Linked DNA regions of Homo sapiens: region 1 is linked to region 2. A link means that fine-mapping ties the variant in region 2 to the expression of a gene that starts in the linked region. Tissue or cell type: whole blood. Region 2 holds a variant in brackets; the other region holds the start of a gene. All regions are shown on one strand. Distances are between the middles of the regions. Region 1 holds the start of SPACDR (sperm acrosome developmental regulator). Region 2 has its middle 15 kb from the start of SPDYE3.

Region 1 (5,369 bases), 170 kb before region 2:
GGAGGAGGTGGAGGTGCTGAAGGAGCAGATCCGGGAATTGGCGGAGCGGAACGCTGCGCTGGAGCAGGAGAATGGGCTGCTGCGCGCCCTGGCCAGCCCGGAGCAGCTGGCTCAGCTGCCCTCCTCGGGGGTCCCACGGCTTGGGCCCCCTGCGCCCAATGGGCCCTCCGTCTGAGCCTCCCTTCCCTTACAATGTGCCTTTGGGGCTGCCCGGCCTTGCGTCAGCCGCCTGCCCCCTCTTCCTATGCAGCTTTAATGTCCCCGTGTCCCCGGGGTGGGAGTTCAAGGCTCAGTAATGGCCTGGTCCCCCGGCCCCTGCCCCATCTCCTCATCATCCCCAGCCTTGATGGAGGAGGGAGGGCTTCAGGACGGGGCGTCAGAGGGAGCCCCCTCTGGGAGGGAACCAACCCCCACCCTCCCTCCTGGGACCCCCCAGCAGTAGACGGCTTGGGGGAGTCGGAGGCTCCCCGGCAGACACCCCACCCCCATCTTGTTCCCTTGAGGTGCCTCCTCTCCTCTGCCCAGGGGAGGGAGTGTGGACAGTATCTGGAAGTTCTGGGATTCAGGTTGTTATTAAAATAATAATAATAATTAAAAACTCTGAAGAAACTTGAATTTGGAGGTTGACATCTCGTTCGTTGCTTGTGTTCAGACTCAGGGGTCGCGCCTGCCATTTAGGGCTCCCCTGAGATCTTTTGCAGACTGGGGAGGTTTAAAGCGTGGGAGACGGAGGAATTGAGACAGAGGCTGGAGAAGGGAGCCAGCGGTTCGGGTCCTGGGAAGGGGCAAGTGAGGATTGGGGGTGGGGGGGCGTCTGCCCACGTGCTGGGCGGGGGGCTGGGAAACAATAAGGTCTTTGGTGGTTGCCCAAGATCCACCCCTGGCTTCCCAGTGTGTCCCCTCTGCGGGCTGGATCCGGGTGGCTGCTTGGGGGCGGGGCGGGGGGCCCTGAATGGGCCCCTTGTCTCGGGGCTGGGTGTGGGCCAGGCTCCCCGGGCACACGGTGCCCTTGCCAGGCCTGGCCAGCCGCCGTGGCTCCCACCCCCGGCCAGCTGAGGACGGGCCCTGTGGGTGAGCTGGCCCCTCCCTGGCAGCCTGGGCTCCGGTCCCAGGCGGAAGAGTCAGCAGCAATGGAGAAGGACCCCATCTAGTGGGGAAGAGGCGAGAGCTGCAGCTGTAGCCCCAGGAGGCCCCTAGCCCCGGGATCCCCTGGCCCCAGCAGCCTCCAAGGAGGCTGACCTGTCTTGGAGTGCCTGACTCTCTGCCTCCTTAGGTTTCCCTAGGTTCATAACCTTGGGCAACTTCTTTGGTTTTTCTTTTTTTTTTTTTCATTTCTCCTTTCTTTTTTTGAGACAGGGTATTGCTCTGATGCCCAGAGTGCAGTGGCACAATCACAGCTCCCTGCAGCCTCCACGTTCCTGGCTCAAGTGATCCTCCCGCCTTGGCCTCCCTGAACTATAGGTGTGCGCCACCACGTTCAGCTAATTTTCTTTATTTTTGTAGAGATGGGGCCTTGCTATGTTGCACAGGCTGGAGTGCAGTGGTGTGATCATAGATCACTGCAGTCTTCAACTCCTGGGCTCAAGTGATCCTCCCACTTCAGCCTCCTAAGTAGCTGGGACTACAGGCATGTGGCACTATGCCCAGCTAGAGTCGAAGTTTCGCTCTTGTCACCCAGTCTGGAATGCAGTGGTGAGATCTCAGCTTACTGCAACCTCCACCTCTCAGGTTCAAGCGATTTCCATGCCTCAGCCTCCTGAGTAGCTGGAACTACACGTGTGCACCACCACACCCAGCTAATTTTTTTTTTTTTTCGTATTTTTAGTAGAGAAGGGGTTTCACCACTTTGGTCAGGCTGGTCTCAAACTCCTGAACTCAAGTAATCTGCCTACCTCAGCCTCCCAAAGTGCTGGGATTACAGGCATGAGCCACTGCGCCTAGCCTAAATTTTTTGGTAGAGACCATCTCGCTATATGGCCCAGGCTGATCTCAAACTGCTGGCTTCAAGTAATCCTCCCACCTTGGCGTCCCAAAGTTCTGGGATTACAGGTGTGAGCTACCACACCTGGCTCTCTTAAGTTTTTTCCTTCCTTGCTTCCTTCCTTCCTTCCTTCCCTCCTTCCTTTTTTGTCTTTCTTTTTTGTTTTTTTCTTTCCTTCTTTTCTTTCTTTTGTTCTTTTCCTTCTTTCTTCTTTCTCTCTCTCTCTCTCTTTCTTTCTCTCCTCTCTGTCTCTCTCTCTTCCTTCCTCCCTCCTCTCCCTTCCTTCCTTCCTTCCTTTTTTTTTTTTTTTTTTTTGAGACAGGGTCTCATTCTGTTGCCCAGGCTGGAGTGCAGTGGCACAATCATGGCTCACTGCAGCCTCCACCTCCTGGGCGCAAGCAATCCTCCTGCCTCAGCCTCCTGAGTAGCTGGGACTGCAGGCACACACCACCACTCCCAACTGATTTAAACTCTTTTTTTGAAAAATTTAAACATAGTGAGTTGGGGGGAGTCTCACTATGTTGCCCAGGCTGGTCTTCAACTCCTGGCCTCAAGTGATCCTCCTGCCTCAGCCACCCAAAACACTGGGATTACAGGCATGAGCCACCATGCCCGGCCCCCTTCAGCTTTCCTGAATTTCAGATTCCTCTTTGATGAAGTGGCACTAACAATAATACCTATCTTGAAGGGCTGCTGTGAAGGACTGCAGGACGTGATGCAGGAACAGTGCTTATTAGTTTGTTACGTGTTAGTTTATTTTCCCTGGATCTGAGCGAAGAAGAGCCAGGGTGGAAGAGATGGACTCTGTGGGTCTGGGCAGGGCCTCGGGGGTTGGGGTCGGGGCCAGGCAGCCTCACAATGGTCTAGAACTCTCCCTCACTGTAGGTTCTCACCTACTTCGACTCCTCTCCCTGTCCCAGGGAGGGGAGAAAAGGTCTGGGATTCATTGCCAGGAGGGGCTTCCCCCAGGATTTCCTACTTCTTTCTTTACTGCTGTGCTTGAAGCTCACAGGAGACCCCTCAAGAGGTGGTCACCGGCCCACAGCCCACCCCATCCCCCACCCGCCACCCCCACCGTACCAAATGCTAGCTCTGCCCTTTCTTCTGTGTTTTTCCCATCAAGAGAGATGGTTGTGGTCATGAAGTTCTTCCGATGGGTTAGACGGGCTTGGCAAAGGATTATTTCCTGGGTGAGTTTCTGAGACCACTCTGTCCTCATGATGCGCTGGGATGAGGGCATGGGTCGCAGCAGCCCCTTACTGCGTGGGTTCCCTCCCTTCCTGGCCTGTGGCCAAACAAGATGGAGTGGGGAGGAAGGAAAGGACAGCTGGGGAGGGGCTGGAGGAGAAGGAAGAGAGGCCAGGAAACTCACTGCTCCATCCCTTTTGTGCCTTCTTTTCTGTGGATGGTGTTGTCTCTGCCCTGCCCCTCTCTCCTGTCTCTCCTCTCTGTGTCTTGGTTCTCAGGTTTTCTTCTGGAGGCAAAAAATTAAACCAACCATCTCAGGACACCCTGACTCCAAGAAACACTCATTGAAGAAGATGGAGAAGACTCTCCAGGTGGTTGAGACTTTGAGGTTGGTCGAGCTCCCAAAAGAGGCTAAGCCCAAGTTGGGTGAGTCCCCCGAGCTGGCAGATCCCTGCGTGTTGGCCAAGACTACAGAGGAGACCGAGGTGGAGCTGGGCCAACAGGGCCAATCCCTACTGCAGCTGCCGAGGACGGCCGTCAAGTCTGTCTCCACGCTCATGGTCTCTGCCCTGCAGAGCGGCTGGCAGATGTGCAGCTGGAAGGTCAGCACCATCCTAACACCCCCTCCCTCTTTCCCCAGCCCCCAGTGACTCACCCCTCCCTCTGATTACTTGTTCAACAATTGTTTCCTGGCCTGGTGCAGTGACTCACGCCTGTAATCCCAGCACTTTGGGAGGCTGAGATGGGAGGATCACTTGAGCTCAGGAATTCGAGACCAGCCTGGGCAACATAGCAAGACCCTGTCTCTTAAAATATCTTTTTCTTTTTCTTTTTCTTCCTTTCTTTTTTTTTTTTCTCCCTGAGACAGAGTCTCCCTCTGTCGCCCAGGCTGGAGTGCAGTAGCGTGATCTCGGCTCACTGCAACCTCCACCTCCCCGGTTTAAGCTATTCTCCTGGCTCAGCCTCCCGAGTAGCTGGGGACTACAGACTCCCACGCCTGGCTAATTTTTGCATTTTTAGTAGAGACAGGGTTTCACCACGAGGCCAAGCTGGTCTCGAACTCCTGGCCTCAAGTGATCCACCTGCCTCAGCCTCCCAAAGTGCTGGGATTACAGGCATGAGCCACCATGCCCGGCAAATGTTTTCTTTCTTAGCCAGGCATGGTGGCTCATGCCTATAGTCCCAGCACTTTGGGAGGCTGAGGCAGGAGGATCACTTGAGGCCAGGAGTTCAAGGCCAGCCTGGGCAACAAAGTGAGACCCCATTTCTACAAAAAAGTTAAAAATTAGCCAGGCTTAGTGGTGCCTGTATTTCCAGCTACTTGGGAGGCTGAGGCAGGAGGAACACATGAGCCCAGGAGTTCAAGGCTGTAATGAGCTATGATTGTGCCACTGCACTCCAGCCTGGGCAATAGAGCGAGACTCTGTCTCTTAAAAATATATATATATTTCTGGCCGGGCACGGTGGCTTACGCCTGTAATCCCAGCACTTTGGGAGGCCGAGGCAGGCTGATCACGAGGTCAGGAGATTGAGACCATACTGGCTAACATGGTGAAACCCCGTCTCTACTAAAAATACAAAAAATTAGCCAGGCAAGGTGGCAGGTGGCTGTAGTCCCAGCTACTCAGGAGGCTGAGGCAGGAGAATGGCATGAACCCGGGAGGCGGAGCTTGCAGTGAGCCGAGATAGCACCACTGCACTCCAGCCTGGGCGACAGAGCGAGACTCCATCTCAAAAAAAATAAATAATAAAAATAAAAAATATTTCCTATGCGTCCACCAAATGCCATGTACTAAAGATACAACAATGAACAAGACTTGCAGACTTGCAGGGCTACAGATGAGACAATAGGCATTGCTAGTTCAGTATCCACACATTGTTGAGTGTGACGTTGTCAAGCGGGCTGTAGGACCCCAGGAGAGAGGCATGTTATCCAAACCTAAGGAGTCAGGTGAGGCCTTTTTTTTTTTTTTTTTTTGAGACGGAGTCTGTCGCCCAGGTTGGAGTGCAGTGGCGGGATCTCGGTTCGCTGCAAGCTCCGCCTCCTGGGTTCACACCGTTCTCCTGCCTCAGCCTCCTGAGTAGCTCGGACTACAGGCACCCGCCACCACGCCCAGCTAAATTTTTTTTTGTATTTTTAGTAGAGGCAGGGTTTCACTGTGTTAACCAGGATGGTCTTGATCTCCTGACCTCGTGATCT
Region 2 (5,369 bases):
CTGTACAGAATCCTCACACTACTGTGTTCTATAGAGGAGCGGAGAGGGAGACCAGTTCTCCACTCCCCTGGCCCTGCTGACACCTGGAGGGTGCCAGGCATGTTCATGGAAACAGCAGCATTGCAGCCTTCCTTCCTTCCCCACAGCTGTATCCGTGTGAGTCTGGACAACAAGGACTTGTCAACACGAATCTCTCTCTTCTCCTGGTGTAAGACAAAACAAAAACAAAAGACGTTGGAGTAGAGATCAGAAAAGGGTGGGTTTGAGATGTTTGGGAGGGTTGAGTGGGCATTTTGACAACTTAGCTTCTCCTTGGGTGGTATTTAGCAGACGCCCTTGTGGTTTAAACTGTAGCTTTAGATATAAAATCCACTCTTGGCCGGGTGCGGTGGCTCACGCCTGTAATCTCAGCACTCTGGGAGGCTGAGGCAGTCAGATCACAAGATCAAGATCAGCAGATTGAGACCATCCTGGCTAACACGGTGAAACCCCGTCTCTACTAAAATAATAAAAAAAAATTAGCTGGGCATAGTGGTGGGCGCCTGTAGTCCCAGCTACTGGGGAGGCTGAGGCAGAAGAATGGCATGAACCCAGGAGGCGGAGCTTGCAGTGAGCCAAGGTCGTGCCACTGCACTCCAGCCTGGGCGACAGAGCGAGACTCCGTCTCAAAAAAAAAAAAAAGAAAATCCACTTCTAATGCTACCTGGGGCCCTGCTGCTTGATGGAGAAACTGAAGAACATAAAGGATCTTGTTTGAGGGTTTTTGTTGTTGTTGTTGTTGTATATTTGTTTGTTTTGAGGCAGGGTTTTGCCCTTTCACCCAGGCTGGAGTGTGGTGGCACAATCACAGCTCACTGCAGTCTCGAACTCCTGGGCTCAGATGATCCTCCTGCCTCAGCCTCCCAAGTAGCTGGGACCACAGGCGTGCACTGCCATGCCTGGCTAAATTTTGTATTTTTTTTAGGGACAAGTTTTGCCATGTTGCCCAGGCTGGTCTTAAACTCCTAGGCTCAATCTAGCCTCCCACCTCAGCCTCCCAAAGTGCTGGAATTATAGGCATGACCCACTACACACTACACCTAGTTTTTGTTATTTATTTATTTTTTAGAGGCAGAGTCTCACTCTGTTGCTCGGCCAGGCTGGAGTTGAGTGGTGCCATCATAGCTCACTGCAGTCTTAAACTCCTGGGCTCAAATGATCCTCCAGTCTCAGCCTCCCAAGTAGCTGGAACCATAGGTGCACATCACAATGCCAGGCTAAATTTTGAAATTTTTTGTAGAGATGGGGTCTCTGATACTGCCCAGGCTGGTTTCAAGCTCCTGGGCTCACATGATCCTCCTGCTTCAGCCTTCCAAGTAGCTGGGACCACAGGCATGTACCTGGTCCAAGCCTGGCTTCTATATTTTTGTAGAGTTGGGGGATCTTGCTCCATTGCCCAGGCTGATCTCAAGCTCCTGGGCTCAAGTGTTCCTCCTGCTTCAGCCTCCCAAAGTGCTGCAATTACAGGCATGAGCCACTGCACCCAGCCTCAGCCTAACAGATTTTTTTTTTTTTTTGAGATAGAGTCTCGCTGTGTTGCCCAGGCTGGAGTGCAGTGGTGCGATCTCGGCTCACTATAACCTCCACCTCCCAGGTTCAAGTGATTCTCGTGCCTCGGCCTCCCAAGTAGCTGAGAGTACAGGTGCATGCCACCATGCTCGACTAATTTTTGGGTTTTGTTGTTGTTGTTGTTTTTTAAGATTGAGTCTCGCTCTGTCGCCCAGGCTGGAGTGCAGTGGCACGATCTCAGCTCACTGCAAGCTCCGCCTCCCGGGTTCACGCCATTCTCCTGCCTCAGCCTCCCGAGTAGCTGGGACTACAGGCGCCTGCCACCACACCCGGCTAATTTTTGTATTTTTAGTAGAGATGGGGTTTCACCATGTTAGCCAAGATGGTCTCAATCTCCTGACCTCATGATCCGCCCGCCTTGGCCTCCCAAAGTGCTGGGATTA[C/T]AGGTGTGAGCCACCGCGCCTGGCCTAATTTTTGTATTTTTAATAGAGACGGCATTTCGCCGTGTTGGCCAGGCTGGTCTTGAACTCCTGACCTCATGTGATCTGCCCGCCTCAGCCTCCCAAAGTGCTGGGATTACAGGCGTGAGCCACCGCGCCTGGCCAGATCTTATTTGGAAATGGTATTCTGCATTGTAATTTTTGTTCTGTTTTACTTTTACATTTTCTTTTTACTACATATCTAGGATTTGCTTTAAAACATCCCAGCCAAGAAAAAGAGGGGAAGGGGAGGATAGTTTGGAGCACATTGGCAAAATCCTGATTGCTATTTAAGCTGGGCAGTGGGTCCACAGGGGTTCACTGTACTCTTCTGTCTACTTTTGTAAATGTTTAAAAATGTTTGTTGTAAAAAGTTCCTTGGTTTTCCTTATGTTTCTCTGGAGAGGAAAAAAGATGTTCAGTTTTATATCTTAAAATGTACAAGCTACCTTGTTAGAATAAAACTAAATGTTTATGCTGCTGGGCACCAGGGCTCATGCCTGTAATACCAGAACTTTGGGAGGCCAAGATGGTGGATCACCTGAGGTCAGGAGCTTGAGACCAACCTGGCCAGCATGATGAAACCCTGTCTCTACTAAAAATAAAAAAATTAGTCGGGAGTGGTGGTGCACTCCTGTAATCCCAGCTACTCAGGAGGCTGAGGCAGGAAGATCACTTTAATCCTGGAGGAGAAGGTTGCAGTGAGCTGAAATCTCACCACTGCACTCCAGCCTGAGCGACACAGCAAGACTCTCTCTCAAAAAAAAAACAAAAAACAAACAAACAAAAAAAACCCAGGACTAGTTCATCAAGAAGCAAAATAATATGACAAACCCTACTTAAATGATTTCATCTGGTTTCAACCACTGCCAGCTGGTTTGATCCAGTTTCAGCTGGTTTCAAATGACTTCATCCAGTTTCAGCCAGGTTAATTCAGCTTCAGCTGGTTGTGAACAGTTTGTGGCTCCTTTCAACCAGTTTCAGGTGGTTTCAGCCAAGGTCATCCAATGTTGGCTGGCTCCAACTGATTTAACTCCTGTTTCAACTGGATTCAGCTGATTTCCACTCTCCTTAAGGCTGTGCTGTCCAATTCAGTAGCTCCTAGCTACATGCAGCTCTTTACATTTAAATTGATTAAAATTAAAGGAAGGCCAAGTTCGCTGGCTCACCCTGTAATCCCAGCACTTTGGGAGGCCGAGGTGGGAGGATCACTTGAGGTCAGGAGTTCAAGACCAGGCTGGCCAACATGGTGAAACCTTGTCTCTACTAAAAATACAAAAAACATTAGCCAGGCATGGTGGTGGGTGCCTATAGTCCCAACTATTCAGGAGGCTGAGTCAGGAGAATCATTTGAACCTGGGAGGTGGAGGTTGCAGTGAGCCGAGATCACGCCACTGCACTGGCAGCCTGGGCAACAGCAAGACTCTGTCTCAAACAAATAGATAAAATGAAATCAAAATTTCATTTCTAGTGTTACAGGCAGAATGTTTGTGGACTCTCCAAAATTCATATGTCAAACTCCTAACTCCCAATGTGATGGTATTTGGAGGCAAGAAGTTTGGGAGGTGATCACGTTGAGATGAGGTTATAAGGGTGGAATTCACTTGATGGGATTAGCAGCCTTTCGAGAAGAGTCATCACAGAGCTTGCTTCCTCTCTCCCTGTCTTGGTCCATTCTGGCACTGCTATAAAGAAAAACCTGAGACTGGGTAATTTATAAAGAAAAGAGGGGTGTTTTGTTTTGTTCTTGGAGATGGAGTTTCACTGTCGTCACCCAGGCAAGAGTGCAATGGCACGATCTTGGCTCACTGCCACCTCCACCTCCTGGGTTCAAGCCATTCTCCTGCCTCAGCCTCCTGAGTAGCTGGATTACAGGCATCTGCCACCACGTCCAGCAAATTTTTGTATTTTTAGTAGAGACGGGGGTTTCACCATGTTGCCCAGGCTGGTCTCGAACTCATGACCTCAGGTGATCCACCCACCTTGGCCTCCCAAAATGCTGGGATTACAGGTGTGAGCCACCACACCCAGCCAAGAAAAGAGTTTTAATTGGCTCACGTTCCACAGGCTGTACAGGACTCATGATTCTGACATCTGCTTAGCTTCTGGGGAGGTCTCAGGAAACTTACAATCATGGTGGAAGGTAAAGGGGAAGCATGCACATCTCACATGGTCAGAGCAAGAGGATGAGAGAGAGGTGGGGAGGTGCTACTCACTTTTAAACAAGCAGAGCTCATGATAACCTACCATGAAAACAGCATGGAGGGGATGGTGCCAGCCCATTCATGAGAAATCCACCCCATGATTTAATCACCTCCTACCAGGCCCCACCTCCAACACTGGGGATTACAATTTGACATGAAACCTCTTTTTTTTTCTTTTTTTGTTTTTTTTTGAGACACAGTTTCACTCTGTCACCCAGGCTGGAGTGTAGTGGCGCCATCTGGGCTCACTGCAACTTCTGCCTCCCAGGTTCAAGCGATTCTCCTGCCTCAGCCTCCTAAGTAACTGGGATTACAGGCGCCCACCACTACACGCGGCTAATTTTGTATTTTTAGTGGAGACAGGGTTTCACCATGTGGTCCAGGCTAATCTCAAAGTCCTGGCCTCAGGTGATCCGCCCACCTCGGCCTCCCAAAGTGCTGGGATTACAGGTGTGAGCCACTGCACCTGGTCTCGACATGAGATTTAAGCGGGGGACACAGAGCCAAACTATATCACTCCCCATCATGTGAGGATACAGGGAGAAGACAGCCATCCACAAACCAGGAAGTGGGCCCTCACCAGACACCAATCTGCTGGTTCCTCAATCTTGGAATTGTGAGAGAGAAATGTGTGTTGTTAAGCCACCCAGCCTATGGTTTTCTGTAACAGAAGCCCAAATAGACTAAGATACTCAGTCACGCTGCTCACAATTCCAGTGCCCACAAGGGCCAGGACCACGTGTGTTCAAGTGGCCAGCATATTGGATGGTGCATTCATAGAACATTTCCATCACCACAGATGGTCCTTCTGGGCAGCTCTGCTCTCGGGAGGAGTTCAGATGTAGAGATCATGGCAGCAAAAGTCTCTCAGAGTCAGGTGAGAGGCAGAAAGATAAGTCTGTTATTGGCTGGGCGCGGTGGCTCACACCTATAATCCCAGCACTCTGGGAGGCCAAGGCATGCAGATCACAAGGTCAGGAGATCGAGACCATCCTGGCTGACACGGTGAAACCCTGTCTCTACTAAAAATACAAAAAATTAGCTGGACGTGTTGGCAGCTGCCTGTAGTCCCAGCTATTCAGGAGGCTGAGGCAGGAGAATGGCGTGATCCCAGGAGGCGGAGCTTGCAGTGAGCCAA

The links. PIP is the estimated chance that this variant, and not a neighbour inherited with it, causes the effect.
Region 1: SPACDR starts here. The variant in region 2 is the best candidate, but not a certain one, in a credible set for the expression of SPACDR in whole blood (TOPMed, PIP 0.86).

The regions. Positions count from the first base shown.
Region 1 is chr7:100,461,765-100,467,133 of GRCh38, reverse strand. It overlaps SPACDR (sperm acrosome developmental regulator), which reads left to right and starts at 2,874. Exons shown (of 3, transcript NM_001004323.3): 1 at 2,874-3,171; 2 at 3,448-3,771. The coding sequence starts at 3,109. TSC22D4-C7ORF61 (TSC22D4-C7orf61 readthrough) reads left to right here. Exons shown (of 6, transcript NM_001395846.1): 5 at 3,448-3,771. It overlaps TSC22D4 (TSC22 domain family member 4), which reads left to right. Exons shown (of 5, transcript NM_030935.5): 5 at 1-615. The coding sequence ends at 175.
Region 2 is chr7:100,289,920-100,295,288 of GRCh38, reverse strand. No RefSeq gene overlaps it. Among named protein-coding and RNA genes, the nearest start is that of SPDYE3, 15 kb to the left of the region's middle. The variant C/T (reference allele first, on the strand shown) is at 1,992.